Regions from separate parts of the Homo sapiens genome. Here region 2 is linked to region 1. A link means that fine-mapping ties the variant in region 1 to the expression of a gene that starts in the linked region. Tissue or cell type: sun-exposed skin. Region 1 holds a variant in brackets; the other region holds the start of a gene. All regions are shown on one strand. Distances are between the middles of the regions.

Region 1 (8,102 bases):
CTGGCTCTTCCCCAGCAGCTGGGTCCACCCTAGATGAGCTGGGCGTCCATTCAGACCAGACAGATCTGGGGGATCCCTGCCCCACCCTGGGGGACCCCCAACCGGAGTGCAATGCCTGTTGCCGATTTCCAGACGGTGGCTGAGGACACCCGGCAAGGTGGTTGGTGCTCAGGCCGCCCCCGATCCACTCCGTCCGGCCCTGCCCTCCCCCAGCCCAGCCCTAGTCTCGCTCAGGAGGCGGCGGGAGCTGCCGTGGGGCGCCGGGGCCCGGGCCGCCGCTGTGCACGCGCAGGTGGTCCTTGAGCGACTCCTTGTAGCGGAAGCTCTTGCCGCACTCGCCGCACGTGTAGGGGCGCTCGCCCGTGTGGATGCGCTGGTGCTTGAGCAGGTTCTGCTTGCGGATGAAGCTCTTGCCGCACAGTGCACATTGGAAAGGCCGCTCGCCCGTGTGCAGCCGCTGGTGGTTCTGCAGGTGCTCCTTACGGCTGTAGGTCTTCTCGCACTCCGAGCACTTGTAGGGCCGCTCGCCGCGGTGCGTCATCTGGTGGCGGATGAGGCCCGAGTGGCAGTTGAAGCTCTTCTCGCACTCAGCGCACTCGTAGGGCCGCTCCTTGGTGTGGCTGCGGTGGTGGATGATGAGGCTCTTGCGCACGCCGAAGCTCTTGCCGCACTCGGGGCACGAGTAGGGCTTGCTGCGGGCGCCGTGCAGGAGGAGGCTCCGCCGCAGCCCGCCAGGGCAGCAGCTGCCACAGCCGCCGCCTGCCCCCGTCCCCGCCTCCGCGCCGCCGCCCCCACCGCCCCCATCGCCCCCGCCGCCCCCGGTGCTGCGGTCCCCACCCGGCGGCGCCTCGCCGGAGCCACGCTCCCCGGGCAGCACCTGGAAACCGTCGTCCAGCAGCCCTCGGCTCGGGGGGCCGCCCGGGTTCTCGGCCACCGCGATGGGGGGCAGGCTCTGGGGCTGGGGCTGCGACTGCAGCTGCGGCTGCGGTGGCTGGGGCTGGGGCTGGGGCTGTGGCGGGGCCGGGGGTGGGTTCTTCACCATCAGCAGGCTGTCACCTGGGGAGATAGGAAGAAGTGACATGCTGACAGGGGTTCTCGGCCAGGACCCCACACTGCTCCCGAAGGGGGGCCCAGGGAGCATGCTATCTGAGCCTCAGTTCCACTAACTACGAGGGATTGCACAAGGTGCTGGGCCACGATCTACGTGGCCCTTCGACCTGTTCGAAGCCACCCTGCTGTGGAGCCCAGAAACGGGTCAAGCAGGTGGCACGCAGCAAGGACAGGAAGTCCCTCCAGAACGCTGAGGGCTAAGGGGTAGGGGACCTGCTGTCCAGAAGTCATTTTGGAAGGCAGAATTTCCCAGAAACAACAAGACTTACTTGCAGTCTGATGGACAATGTTTTTTGTTTGTTTGTTTTTCCAGACAGGGTCTGGCTCTGTCTCCCAGGCTGTAGTGCACTGGTGAGATCATGGCTCACTGCAGCCTTGACTTCCTGGGCTCAAGTGATCCTCCCACCTCAGCCTGCCAAGTAGCTGGGACCATAAGCATGCGCCACCAGGCCCAGCTAATTAAAAAAAAAAAACAAATCTTTTCGGCCGGTCGCAGTGGCTCACGCCTGTAATCCCAGCATTTTGGGAGACCGAGGTGGGCGGATCACCTTAGTTCAGGAGTTGGAGACCAGCCTGACCAACATGGAAAAACCCCGTCTCTACTAAAAATACAAAATTAGCCGGGAGTGGTGGCCCATGCATGTAATCCCAGCTACTCAGGAGGCTGAGGCAGGAGAATCACTTGAACCGGGGAGGCAGAGGTTGCAGTGAGCTGAGATCTTGCCATTGCACTGGCCCAGGCATCCAGCCTGGGCAACAAGAGCGAAACTCTGTCTCTCAAAAAAGTAAATAAATAAAATACAATTTAAAAAGGCCAGGCGCAGTGGCTCACGCCTGTAATCCCAGCACTATGGGAGGCCGAGGTGGGTGGATCACGAGGTCAAGAGATCGAGACCATCCTGCCCAACATAGTGAAACCCCATCTCTACTAAAAATACGAAAATTAGCTGGGCATGGTGGCACGCACCTGTAGTCCCAGCTACTTGGGAGGCTGAGGCAGGAGAATCACTTGAACCTGGGAGGCGGAGGTTGCAGTGAGCTGAGATCCTGCCACTGCACTCCAGCCTGGCGACAGAGCGAGACTCTGACTCAAAAAATAAATAAATAAAAATAAAAAATAAAAAATAAATTTTTGTTGAGACAGGGTCTCACTATGTTGCCCAGGCTGGTCTCCAACTCCTGGGATCAAGCAATCCTCCCACCTTGGCCTCCCAAAGTGCTGGGATTACAGATGTGAGCCAGCACACACACTGACAATGCTCACTTTTATCTCAGGACAGTCTCTCAATAGGAAGAAAAGAATTTTATCCAAGGTGAAAACCATCTAGAGGCCCACAGGAATGGAATGCAGGGAGCTGGAAACATAAGCATCAGATGGGTTGGCAGTCATGTTTCCACTAAGCATGTGGGGCATCTGACTTGGGCAGGTGTGGGCAGCTGGGACATGTGAGTCCCACCCTGGCACCTGACCCACCTGGACCTTGGCAGCACCATAACAGGCCCTCCTTGCACTCGTGGCAGTGGCCACCCAACCTACCACCCCAGGAAATGCGGTTCTTGCCCCCTTTCCTCCAAGTGCACAGTTCTCCACCACCTTGGGGGGCAGTGGGAGACAAAGCCCAGGCTCTGAGCATCAGAATGGTGACGTCAGGCCCAGTCCTTCCCCCTCCCACCCACCCTGTCCCCCAGCCCAGTGGTTCTCATGCCTCACGCTCCATCACCTCCCTGGTCTTCAGTTTGAATTCCTTTCTCCCTAGAGGAGTCCTGCTCCCCAATTTAGGGGAAGCCTGTGGAAGAGCTCTGAAGAAAGAGACGGCCTCCCACCTCTTCTCAGCATCCTTTTCTCCGTGCTCACACCCCTCTGCCTAGGACCCAACTGCTCCCCGGAGGCCACTTCCCAGGCCACATCTGCCATGTTTCCACCCAGCCCTCCTATATTCGTTGGTGTTTGACTGAGGTCTGTCCTTATATGATACTCTTAAATAGACTGGGCCTGCCCTCCCTCTCTGTCTCAATCAAAATTGGCCTGGCAGAGAACCATCTCTGCAGGACACTGGCCAGGTGCAGAGGCCAAAAGAATTCTCTTCACATCAGTGCAGGATGCCTGGGAAGGGTCATCCCAGCTCCAGAGAATCCCGGGAGATCGCTGTGGCCTCTGTGGCCACGGCACTGAGGGTGTTTGCTTCTCTGTCTACCCAGTCCTGCTACTCTCACTCCTTCCCAGGTGTTATTCCCAGAGGACTTGCAAAGAAACTATATGCACATAAACTCCCAGGGGCTGTCTCCCGGGAAGCCCACCTAAGGCAGTCCTACTCTGACCGTCTTCCAACCCAGTGTGAACCTCAATCCACGTTCTCACCATCCCGCTATGCCCTCCACCTCCAACCTTTTTCTGCCTTCCTGACCCAACTTGGCTCTCCAGGCCCGGCAGCCCAGGCACTTGCAAGGGCACGGTGATTGCCTTTGCTCCGCC[G/A]TTGTGCTTGCCTGGAGAACTCCAGTCCTGTGACTGCACTCAGGCAGCTGAAAAACTGCACAAGCTGGCCAGGCACTGTGGCTCATGCCTGTAATCCCGGCACATTGGGAGGCCAAGGCAGAAGGATTGCTTGAGCCCAGGAGTTTGAGACCAGCCTAGGCAACCTAGGGAGACCCCATCTCTACAAAAAAACATTTAAAAATTAGGTACTGTGACACACGCCTGTGGTCCCAGCTACTCAGAAGACTGATGCGAGAGGATTATTTAAACCTGAGAGGTCGAGGCTGCGGTGAGCCGTGATCGCGCCACTGTACTCCAGCCTGGGTGACAGAGTGAAACCTTATCTCAAAAAAAAAAAAAAAAAAAACCCTCCAGGGGCCTCCACACAGCCTGGCATCCTGGCCCACGTCTCTAGTGGGTTTTACTTTTCCACTCTGGAATGATTACGTCATCCTTCCTCCTCTATCCTACGCCCCTCCCCCCCAACCCATGCATGGCCCTGAGGGCTTTTCCTTTCCAGTCACTGGCTGGTAAGTGATTCACATGCAAGCATGTAACCTAGTTATGGTCAGTAGGGTATGGGAAGTTTGCTGGGAGGCTTCTGGAAAGATTTCCTCATTCCTTAGAGTGTGCAGGAAAAGATGGGCTTTCCTGTACACTCATGTCTGGATGCGACGCTTGGGACAGCTGCAGCTGCTGTGCTACCAGCCTGGGGATGAAGCCACACCGAGGATGGTCAGGCAAGGAATTGGAAAGAACCTGGGTCCTTGAAAACATGCTGAGTCTTTGAATCAACTAAGCCTGAACCTGACCTACCTTAGGACTTCCAGTTACGTAAGAGAAGAAATTTCTTTATTCTTTTTTTTTCTTTTGGAGACGGAGTCTGGCTCAGTTGCGCAGGCTGGAGTGCAGTGGCGCGATCTCAGCTCGCTGCAAGCTCCGCCTCCTGGGTTCACGCCATTCTCCTGCCTCAGCCTCCCGAGTAGCTGGGACTACAGGCGCCCACCACGACTACGCCAGGCTAATTTTTTTGTATTTTTAGTAGAGACGGGGTTTCACCGTGTTAGCCAGGATGGTCTCGATCTCCTGACCTCAGGATCCGCCCGTCTCGGCCTCTCAAAGTGCTGGGATTACAGGCGTGAGCCACCGTGCCCGGCTTCTTTATTCTTTAAGGCAGTTTGAATCAGGGTTCTAAAGTAGTTGGGAGCATCTGACCCGAGACAATGGTCTAGTTATCTCCGACCTTAAAAGAACCCCCTCCCTAGGCCCATGTGGCCCGTGCCCCAGCTCCTCACATGTCATTTCTGTTCCTTTTCATAGTAAGACTCATCAAGAGTCACTGCACTTGCCCTTACCACTTCTTCACCTCCCATTCTTTTTAGATGATTCCAATCAGGCATGCACCCTTGCCATTCCACTGAAAAACTTTTTCGTTTTTGAGACCAAGTCTTGCTCTGTTGCCCAGGCTGGAGTGCAGTGACACAATCTCTGCTCACTGCAACCTCCACCTCCCAGGTTCAAGCGATTCTCTTGCCTCAGCCTCCCAAGTAGCTGGGATTACAGATGCCTGCCACCATGCCTGGCTAATTTTTGTATTTTTAGTAGAGACAGGGTCTCTCCATGTTGGCCAGGCTGGTCTCGAACTCCCGACCTCAAATGATCCACCTGCCTCGGCCTCCCAAAGTGCTGAGATTACAGGTGTGAGCCACCACACCCAACCTCCATTGAAAAACTTTTGCCGAGATCACCAACAATATCCAACCTGTCAAATCCCCCAGGCTCTTCCCTGTCCTGCATATGCAACCACTCATGGGTGTCTGACATAGTTAACCCTCCCCAAGAGATTCTCTTCTCCCAGCCTCTGTAACACCTTGCCCCTCTGGTTTTCTGCCATGCTCAGAGCTAAGATCTCTTTAATTCTTTGTTTACACTGTCCCTAGAACTCATATAGTCCTGAACAACCTAAGTGTAATAACTTGACTGGCCTTTGTCCCTGGTTCCTGGGAAGGAGCCTCTAAATCTCTGGATTTCCCGAGTGACAGGGGTGCCTTTGTTATTCATGGTGGGATCTTAGAGAGTTTAAGCTAAGGAGATGACAAAGGATGGGGCTGCCATGCTGAAAAGACCAAGCACGTGACTAAAGGTTTAGGGTTTGAGGCCCAACCTCCAGGGAGGGAAAGGGGCTGGAGACTGAGCTGAACCTCGTGGCTAATGATTCAATCAATCATATCTATATAAAGAAGCCCCAACAGAAACTCGGAACGCCAAAGCTCAGCGAACTTCCCTGGTTGGCAATGCTCTGCATATTTTCACACGTTGACATGCTGGGAGGGTGACACATCCTGACTCCACAGGGAGGGAACAATGGAAATTTCAGGCTTAGGACCATCCCAGACCTAGCCTTATGGATCTCCTTTTGGCTAGCTCTGATTTGAATCCTTTTGCTGTGATAAAACTGTAATGATATATATAGCACTTTCCTGAGTTCTATGAGTCATTCTAGCAAATTATGACGGGGTGATGGGAAGCCCAGAATTTGTAGCCAGCTGGTCAGAAGTGAGGGTGGCCTAGAACCCCCAAATTTGCAGCTGGTGTCTGAAGAGAGAACGGTCCTGTGGAGGCATGAGCCCTCAACCTGTGAGGTTTGGCCAATTACAGGTCGCTGATGTTGGAAGTCACTGCAACCTGTAACTCCCAAATCAGTCTATCCCCAAGCTCTCTCTTGAACTTCAGACTCCTATATTCACCTACTTGATCTGCTACTTGAGTGTCACCTCAAATTTTAATAGGTCCAAACTAGAACTCTTGACTCCAAACTAGAACCAGCAACACAGGTTCTTTTCCAGGGCTTGGCACTTCAGCAAACAGTACTACCATTCACCCACTTCTGTAGGACCCAGACCCAGGAGTCAGTCTTGATTCCACAGCCCCCACAGGCAACCCATGAGTGACACTCTCAAAGTGCATCTGAATCTGTCCTTTCTCTCCCTGTGCACTGCTGCTACCCCAGCTCTGACCACCAGCATCTCTCCACTTGGTCTGCATCAAATGCATGAGCCTCAGACATGGCTCCGCACCCCCCGCCAATCCACTCCTGAAATCCTATAAAAACGTAAACCAGATCATGTCCGATTTCATACCCTTTATTAGTCTCTCTCTCTCTCTTTTTTTTTTTTTTTTCTGAGACAGGGTCTCGCTTTGTTACCCAGGCTGGAGTGCAGTGGCATGATCTCACTGCAACTTTCACCTCCTGGGTTCAAGGGATTCTCATGCCTCAGCCTCCCGAGCAGCTGGGATTACAGGTGCCCGCCATGACACCCGGCCTAGTCTCCTTTCTTGTAAGAATAAAATCCAAACTCTAACTTGGCCCATAGGTCATACATGCTCAGGTGCCTCAGTCTACGGCTCCATCCTCCTCCCCAAAGCCTCCATGGCCCTGCCTTCACTTCCCTCTTCTTGGTCTTCTCTTCCCCCTGCAACCCCACGGCCGGCTCCTTCCCACTGCCAAGGGCACACTCAGTCAGGCACCGCTTCCCCTCGGAGGCCTTTCCTGACCACTCTGTCTTTGCTCTGCCTCATGTCCACACTCCTTCCTGTTCTCCCTGCCATTGTTCTCAGAGCATTGCTGCATCCTGGCTTTACCTTGCCTGCTTGCTGGCCTGCTTATTCATCCTCTTCCCACAAAAGAAAAGGTCTTTCTTCACTCCCAATTTTTTTTTTTGAGACAGAGCCTTACTCTGCCACCCAGGCTGTAGTGCAGGGGCGCAATCTTGGCTCACTGCAACCTCCGCCTCCCGGATTCAAGCAATTCTCCTGCCTTAGCCTCCCAAGTAGCTGGAGTTACAGGTGCCCACCACCACTCCTGGCTAGTTGTTTTTTGTTTGTTTGTTTGTTTGTTTTTTGTATTTTTAGTAGAGACGGAGTTTCACCATGTTGGCCAGGCTGGTCTGGAACTCCTGACCTCAGGTGATCCAACTGCCTTGGCCTCCCAAAGTGCCGGGATTACAGGCCTGAGCTACCACACCTGGCCCTTCACTGCTTATTCTAAGTGCTTACAATACTGTGTAACACATAGCAGGCATTAAGTAAATACCTGCTAAAAAAAATATAAACTATGAAAGGTTGGAACCACTGTTTTAACCCAATGTAGTGAATAATGTGGGAATTTCAAGAGGGTGCTTTCACGTCATATTCTGTGGGTGTTGGCACCTGGGAATGGTGGCCCAGCTTCAGGATCTTTACCACCTCTCACTCCGGAAGCACCTTTTAGCCACTGCACTCCAGAGTCCTAGCTACGCTTCCTGCTTCAGTGGAGGCACTGATGTACATTAACTTTGGGCAAACTGAATCTTCTTCTTGTCTTACACTAACATGCTGAGAGCGAGACTCAGTATACACTCATTAATAAATAAATTCAGGAGTCCCTTTTACAAGAATGTAATATCCAATTGGGTTGAGGTCTGCCTTTGAGTCAAACGGATACCAGTTATTTCCCTCTTACATATCCCAGGGCTGGAGA
Region 2 (8,102 bases), 42 kb before region 1:
AACAAGAAATGAGGAAGAGCTGGACCCCACATGCCCACAGAGATGCAGAGATGCCCAAAGTACCAAAAGCCAAAGCAAAGACACAGACTGTCCACAGACAACCTGTGGACAGAGGCCCAGATCCTCCCTCCGTGGCCTTACCCAGGGAGACCAGCGTCTCGTAGTTGCCCCTCATCACGTGCTTGTAGAGCTCCTTCTGCCAGTCCTCCAGCTTGCCCCACTCCAGCTCAGAGAAATACACGGCCACATCATCGAAGGTCACGGGCACCTGGAACCATAAGTGTCGCACTCACTCACCCACACGCTCACAGGCTCAGCCCCTCGAGCTCCCCCACCCCAGGGTGTCCCGGTGCTACCTTGGGGGCCTCCCCCTTGCTGCCCGGGGGCAGCCGCAAGATCCAGAAGTTCCTGTTGCGCAGCAAGTTCTCCACATTCTCCAGCCGCCTCTGCAGCAGCCCGTACTCCTGCAGCAAGGTCCCCAGCACGGCCCACTTGCCCTCCAGCTGGTTCCCGAACTCCACAGCTGTCTTCTCGCAGTCGGCCAGCTTCTTCTCGGCTGTCCCCGTGCGCCCCTCCAGAGTCAGCAAGCGGGTCAGGCAGGAATCCACCTTCTTCTCCAAGGCCTGAATGGCGGCCACCACCGTCCACAGTGTGATTTCCGTGGAGTAGAGGTACGAGTTCTTCTCAGCAGCTGGCTGGGGCAAGGGTGTCGAAGGACTCTGGTCCTCTGTGTGCTTGTCTGTCTCGGGGTCCTGCTCACAAGAAGAGAAAAGAGAGATGTTATGAGAATTATACAATCAAAACTTCCACCTCAAAAACACACTTCGGAAATGACACCTGCCATGGTAAAGTCCCATCTGGGCTCCTGAGTTAGCAGCAGACTGGGGGGGAGAGGGAGAGGCTAGGGTATCAGTTAGGAATCCAGCCTAACTGATACAAGAGATAGTGGCTGGACCAACGTGTCAGCAAGTGGGAAAGTGGAAGAAAAACAGCCCCGGCTCCTGTCCTACAGGCTAGCTATGGAGACGGGGCATGCCCCACAGGCTTGAGCAACCACGTGCAGTCTCAAACAAGTGACTCCCCTTCTTGGGTCTCAGTTTCCTCTTCTAAAAATGAAAGGACAAGGCTTTGTGGCACAGAGAACATGACTCCCCAGTGGACAGCCCAGGTGCAACTCAGCTCTGCCACTTACAAGCTGGCCAACTGTGGGCAAGGTGTTTTCAACAGCTTCCAACTTCCCTTCCCTATCTAGAAAATGGAGATAATAATAGTACCTATACAATAGCACTGAGAGAATTAAGAAAAATCTGTGTACAAAGCACTTAGTACAATGTGTAGCACAGCACAGATAATAAACATGAGCCCCATGTTGCAGGGCTAAGATGACACTGACTGCTATGGAATGAATGCTTGTGTCTCCCTCAATATCCATCTGCTGAAGCATTAATCCCCAATATGCCGGTATTTGGAGGTGGAGCTTCTGGGAGGCAATTAGGCCATGAAGGCAGAGCCCTCATAAATAGGATTAGCGCCCTTGTAAGAGGAGACACAAGGGAGATGATCTTGCTGTATGCCACGTGAGGATACAATGAGAAGGCAGCCGTCTGCAAACCAGGAAAAGAGCCCTGCCGGGAACCAAGGCAGCCTGAGCAGACTGAGACAATGACAGTGATTATGGTGATGGTTCCAGCTCAGGGATATGGTATAAATAGTTCATATGGCCTTTTTTTTAACCTCCACCTCTTTTATTCCATTGTCCTTCAGTGCCTTGGAAAAAGCTTCTCAAGTGCCTCAGCTTACCCTGGTATCTGATTCACAAGCCCTCATTGTGCATGCGCAATGGGCACAGTCCTGGTTGGTGCTGCTAAAAGCCTTGTTGGAGAGACAAATCAACATCTCACTCCTCAATTTCATTCATCCTTCATGGTTAAATCACCATCAGGTCCTAACTTCCAAAATTACCTCAAATCCATCCATGTTTCTCCTTCTCCACTGCCAGTGTCTAGTCCAAGTTCCCATCACCTTGCTTGGCCTGGGCCACTGCGGTCCTGCCCACCTGATTTCCCCACTTCCAGCCTTCTCCCCCACTTCCAGCCTTCTCCCCCACTTCCAGCCTTCTCCCCCACTTCCAGCCTTCTCCCCTACTTCCAGGCTTCTCCCCGACAATACACTTTCCACAGAGTAATTGTTAATCTTTTTTTTTTTTTTTTTTTTGAGACGGAGTCTTGCTCTGTCGCCCAGGCTGGGGTACAGTGGCGCAATCTCGGCTCACTGCAACCTCCACCTCCCAAGTTCAAGCGATTCTCCTGCCTCAGCCTCCCAAGTAGCTGGGACTACAGACGCCCGCCACCACACCCAGCTGATTTTTATATTTTCAGTAGAGACAGGCTTTCACCATATTGGCCAGGCTGGTCTCAAACTCCTGACCTTGTGATCCGCCCGCCTCAGCCTCCCAAAGTGCTGGGATTACAGGCGTGAGTCAGTGAGCCACTGCTCCCGGCCTGGTAATCTTTTAAAAACACAAATAGATCATTTCAGTACCCTGCTTAAAACTCTTCAATAGCTTCCCAGTGTACCTGGCATAAGATCTAGACTTCTTCATGGCCCAGCCGACCTCTCTTGACCTTGAGCCATCCAGTTCCTGTCGTGCTCCAGCCATGCCAGCCTCCTGTGGATTCCGAGGACCCACCCGGCCCTCCTCCAACTTCACATCAGCTCTCAATATGCATCCTCTGTATGCCTGAGTCTCTCTCGTTTTTAAGATTCTAGCATAGACAACGCATCCTAGAGATTTTCACTGCCCCTCCCCCTTAGCACTAGTAATCTATAATTGCTTCATTCATTCAATAACAATTACTGAACACCTATCATAGTAAATGTACAGTGAAGATGAAGAAAAAACTGATGTGGTTCTTCCTTCTCCAGGAGAAAAATTCTGTATAGGAATACTTATAAACAACAACAGTGTGATAGGATGGGCTAACAAGAGTCCAGGGCAAATCTGTCCCTTTTGGGGAGTTTTTTGGGATCTCAAGTGCTGCAAGAAGGGAGGAGCAGGTGGACAGGAGTGATCTGAAAGGTAGTGAAGCAGTGAGCCCCAGGCTAGGGGGAGTGGATGATGTCACCTTCTAGGGCCCCCTCTTCCCAGGGAACAGGACTATAAACCTGCAGAATCCTCAACGCTTTTTCTCTCCCTTGCACTCAGGGAACCCAAAAAGAAGCTCAGCACACTCACTAAGAGGAGGGAGAGGAAGTTATACTTTAATAAAAGTATCCAGAAAAATCAAGGTTTCAAAACCTTCACTGAGGTGTATTAATAATAGTAGGTATCATCTATTGAGCCTTTACAAGCGTTTTCCAGTATGTCAAAAATGGCCAAAGGATTATAATCTCCCAATTGGACATACTGCACTATATCAAACCAAGATTCTAAAATCTGCTAAACTGGCCTAACTTATATAGATGAAGATGCCAAAAAAACTGATGTGATTCTTCCTTCTCCAGGAGAAAAATTCTGTATAGGAATACTTATAGTGTATTCTTATGAATAAACTTATTCATATAGATATGTATCTGGACAGATAGATAGATAGATATAAATGAGACAGGCACCTGCGCCTGTAATCCCAGCTACTTGGGATTGGGAGGCTGAGGCAGGAGAATACCTTGAACCCGGGAGGCAGAGGCAGAGGTTGCAGTGAGATGAGATCCCGCCACTACACTCCACCCTGGGTGAGAGTGAGACTGTGTCTAAAAAAAAAATATATATATATATATATATACACACACACACACACACACACACACACACACACACACACGTATATATATATACTTTTTTAATTAAAAAATTTTAAAATGGCCGGGCGCGGTAGCTCTCGTCTGTAATCCCAGCACTTTGGGAGGCCGGGGCGGGCAGATCACGAGGTCAGGGGTTCGAGACCAGCCTGGCCAACATAGTGAAACCCAGTCTCTACCAAAAATAGAAAAATTAGCCAGGCGTGGTAGCAGGCGCCTGTAGTCCCAGCTACTTGGGAGGCTGAGGCAGGAGAATCCCTTGAAGCCGGGAGGCGGAGCTTGCAGTGAGCCGAGATCGTGCCACTGCACTCCATCCAGCATGCGCAACAGAGCGAGACTCCCTCTCAAAAAAAAAAATTAAATAAAATCTGCTACAGTAATCTTTTTTAAAAAAATCTACTATCTCTCTTGTAAACGACACAATCTTTCTCTTTGGCAAAAGTAGAATATGAGGCGTTTTAAAGTGTCTAATTCCAAAATCCCTGCCCCGGCGTGAGGCTCCCGCCTCTAATAGATGCGTGACCCTGGGCCTGTCCCTTCCCATCTCAGCCTCCGCTACTGTCCCGTGGGGCTGGCGGCCCCTGCCCGCCCAGCCTGCTGTAGGGGGGGCCGCGAGGCCTCAAATGGGACAATACTCCTAAGGCGCGGCCTCCTCGTCGCCGAGCGTGACTCTGGGGCCCGGCCTGGCTGAGGCCGCAGATGGGCCGGATCGTCAGCCGCTGACGTCGGGGCCCCGCCCGCCGGGCCTGGCATTTGGGCCGCCCGGTCAATGCCTTCGACGCGGGCTGGGCGATGGGCCGGGGGCAACGAGCGCGGAGGCTGCGCGCAAGGCCCTCTCACCCCGCGGCCTCGCGCGGCCAGAGTCCCTCGCGCGGGCTCACGCGGCGGCGGCCTGGGCCTTCCGGGCGTCCGCGGGGCCGAGGGCGCTTACCCGGGCAGGCGCCGCTTCGGCCATGGCTGCCCGCGTCCCTCGCTGGGTTGCAGTCCCTGGACCCGGCCTGTCGGGCCCGGGGCGGCGCGGCAGCGACGGCGGAAGCGGAGCGGGACCCGCCTAACCTGAGAGCTACTGCCGGGCGGCAGCGAACTGCGTCCCGAGCCACGTGCCCCGCTGGCCCTTTAAAAAAGAGCTGCGCTCGGCGGCCGAGCTTGAGGACGCGCACAGCGCCCCCTGCAGCCCGTAGGACCGCACGCCCGCGGCCGCCGCCCCGCGCCCTCCCGAGGCCTTCAGCGCCCGCGGCGTCCGGGACCCAGGCGCGGCCACCCACCCTCACCCGGGGCGCGGGAGTTGACGCCAGGGCGGGCGTGCCACGGCCTCCAGCGGGGCTACGTCAGGCGTAAGCCACTCCCGGGCCAGCGCGGCGCCCAACCTCTCTCTGCGTCCCACGCGGGAGCCGGGAGGGCTGCGGGAAGGAACCGCGCTGGAAAGTGCGAAACCTCGCGAGGGAAAGCTGCGTGGGGAACGGGGTCGGCCCTCGCCGGGGCTCCAGTCCGGACCGAGACTCTGTTGCAGCGCCTCCCACGCACCACAGAACTGAGTTGGGGAAAGTAAAAAGGATACGTGTGTACCCAGGGAGAAGCCAGGGAAACTTACATGAACGTTTTTAAAGTCTCTTTTAAATTTGACAGAACAAACGTGAAGATGGTAGGATTTTTTTTTTTTTTTTCCTAAGCCTGCCCTCCCCTCCTGAGGACTCTGGGGTCCCTTCCTCCTCCCGGGGCCCGCCTGGTGAAAGTCCTCAGCCACCCACGAGGACCCTTCTGTAGCTTTGGTCCAGGCTGAGATCACAGCAAGTGTGAATCAGTCCATCCCTCATTTAGGCCCTGAGGCATCTTGAATAAACCGCAGGACCCATTTTCCTCGGCCTGTGCTGAGGCATATTGAACTAAATGTGCTGTATGCAGTTGAAGCTTTGTTTTCTGTCTTTTCTGCATTTCCCATTCATCTCACAGTCTTTGTCCAACAAGCTGGCAAACTCTTCCCGCTAGAAATCTGCAGTTTTGTTTCTTTCTGTGTTTGGGTTTGTTTGGGGTTTTTTGGTTTTGGTTTTGTTTTTTCTTTTTTGGGGGGGGGGGGTGAGGGTGAGAAGTTATTTTCACAAATATTTGAGCCAAGCAAAAGCGTGGTCAACTATCAGAAAAAACACAAACTGATATCCTAAGTAAGGTGAACCCCAAAATTTGCGGAAAGGTTAGGACGTGTTACTTTAAGGTAACAAATCAAATAAATATTTGGCATTATTCATTTTGGAAATTCTTGTTGAACTATCCCAATCTAAAACACAAACTGCAAGTATGCACTAAAGACATTAAGAGCATCCCTAGGATCTTATCAGGGATCAGTCCAATCTATTCAGGATTATAAAATACCAGTAAATGGTGACGTTATAGAATAACAGTTAAGGTCCAATGCAAACAGAAAGGGTCAGGAAAATGGGCCAGGAGCCGTGGCTCATGCCTGTAATCCCAGCAGTTTGGGAGGCTGAGGCGGATGGATCACCTGAGGTCAGGAGTTCGAGACCAGCCTGGCCAACATGATGAAACCCCATCTCTACTAATACAAAAAATTAGCTGGGTGTGGTGGTGAGGTACTCTGGAGGCTGAGGCAGGATAATCGCTTGAACCCGGGAAGCAGAGGTTGCAGTAAGCCGAGATCATGCCATTGCACTCCAGCCTGGGCAACAAGAGCAAAACCCCATCTCAAAAAAAAAAAAAAAGAAAAAGAAAGAAAGAAAGGGTCAGGAAAATGGGCTGGAGACAAAAATGCTAGGATTTAATGAGCTCTGTTGAGGAAAGAGTGCTATAATGTTTGACAGCTAGTCTTCGTTTTTTAGAAAAAAAGTTTCTCTAAGTCAGTGGTACTCAAACTTCAGTGTGCATCATGTTCACTGAGGGTTCTTGTTAAAAATACAGGATGCTAGGCACAAACCTCAACATTTCTAGGTCTGAAACAGGAGGGGATGAAAGTGATGCGAATTTGCAATTCTAACTAGTTCCCAAGAAATGCTGATTCTATTGGTCTGGTGATCACAGTTCGAAAACCTTGGCACTGTTTATCAGGGTCCCACAGCTACCTCCCATTCCCATGCTCAGATTTTATAAATATATTTAATAAACGAACACTTTGCACCATAATGTGGTTTCTGAGCAGACCAGCCGGGGTGTCAAGCCAGCTCTGATATAAATTAAAATTACATGGTGGCTTTTTTTTTTTAAGACGGAGTTTCGCTCTTGTTGCCCAAGATGAAGTGCAATGGCACGATCTCGGCTCACTGCAACCTCCACCTCCCAGGTTCAAGAGATTCTCCTGCCTCAGCCTCCCGAGTAGCTGGGATTACAGGTTCCTGCCACCATGCCAGGCTAATTTTTAGTATTTTTAGTAGAGACGGGGTTTCACCATGTTGGCCAGGCTGGTCTCAAACTCCTGACCTCAGGAGATCCACCCACCTCGGCCTCCAAAAGTGCCGGGATTACAGGCATCAGCCACCACGCTCAGCCTACATTCATCTTTAATTGTTAATCTGTCTCTTGTGAGTTTGTTTTTTGGGGGATCAGATTTCCAGGACCTGATTATCTCTGGGTGAACTGACAACATCCAGTGGAGGCCCAGTCCGTGGAGTAACAAGGGTGACTCCACCTGCAGAAGGTAGGGTTGTCACAATTTGAGGGCCACCAAAGTAGTACCCAGGGTCACTCAACAAGAGGTCAGCACACTCAAGTGCCATTGTCCCCACCAGAACATCCTCAGCCAAGAGATAGTGGCAGGTCAGAGACAGAATTCCTGTGGCTCCCTCATCCTCCAAGCCAGGAATGTAATTTAGATTAGGAGGTGGACCCACACAGAATTATAAAGATGTTAGGAACGGAAGCATTAGTAGAGGGAGACCAGAAGTACAGCCAAATCCCACTTCCTCCATAGAAGCCTTCTCTATTTCAGACAACACCCAGCTCTCTATTCTGTGAACACCCATTATACTTTCTCATTCAGCAAACATTTGCTGAGCACCTATGTGCCAAGCACCTGTGCTGAGAGCTGTGGAGGCTGATAGGAGTAAGACATGGTCCCTCCTGAGGCCAGGCGCGGTGGCTCACGCCTGTAATCCCAGCACTTTGGGAGGCCGAGGCGGGCGGATCACGAGCTCAGGAGATCAAGACCATCCTGGCTAACACGATGAAACCCCGTCTCTACTAAAAATACAAAAAATTAGCCGGGCGTGGTGGTAGGCGCCTGTAGTCCCAGCTACTTGGGAGGCTGAGGCAGGAGAATGGCCTGAACCCAGGAGGCGGAGCTTGCAGTGAGCTGAGAT

Direction of the effects. Positions count from the first base shown, and alleles are read on the strand shown. Sizes are in standard deviations (SD) of each study's normalised expression.
As copies of G replace A in region 1, the expression in sun-exposed skin of the gene that starts at base 4,891 in region 2 goes up (moderate effect, 0.50 SD a copy in GTEx).

The links. PIP is the estimated chance that this variant, and not a neighbour inherited with it, causes the effect.
Region 2: it holds the start of ZNF783, and the variant in region 1 is fine-mapped to the expression of ZNF783 in sun-exposed skin (GTEx, PIP 0.98).

Annotation. Positions count from the first base shown.
Region 1 is chr7:149,216,766-149,224,867 of GRCh38, reverse strand. ZNF282 (zinc finger protein 282) reads right to left here. Exons shown (of 8, transcript NM_003575.4): 8 at 1-1,056. The coding sequence ends at 221. Among named protein-coding and RNA genes, the nearest start is that of ZNF212, 19 kb to the left of the region's middle. RefSeq lists an enhancer at 4,041-5,030. The variant G/A (reference allele first, on the strand shown) is at 3,584.
Region 2 is chr7:149,258,985-149,267,086 of GRCh38, reverse strand. It overlaps ZNF783 (zinc finger protein 783), which reads right to left and starts at 4,891. Exons shown (of 6, transcript NM_001195220.2): 1 at 4,730-4,891; 2 at 357-752; 3 at 142-268. The coding sequence starts at 4,753. LOC124901769 (a long non-coding RNA gene) reads left to right here and starts at 4,746. Exons shown (of 2, transcript XR_007060582.1): 1 at 4,746-5,440. RefSeq lists a silencer at 4,424-5,293.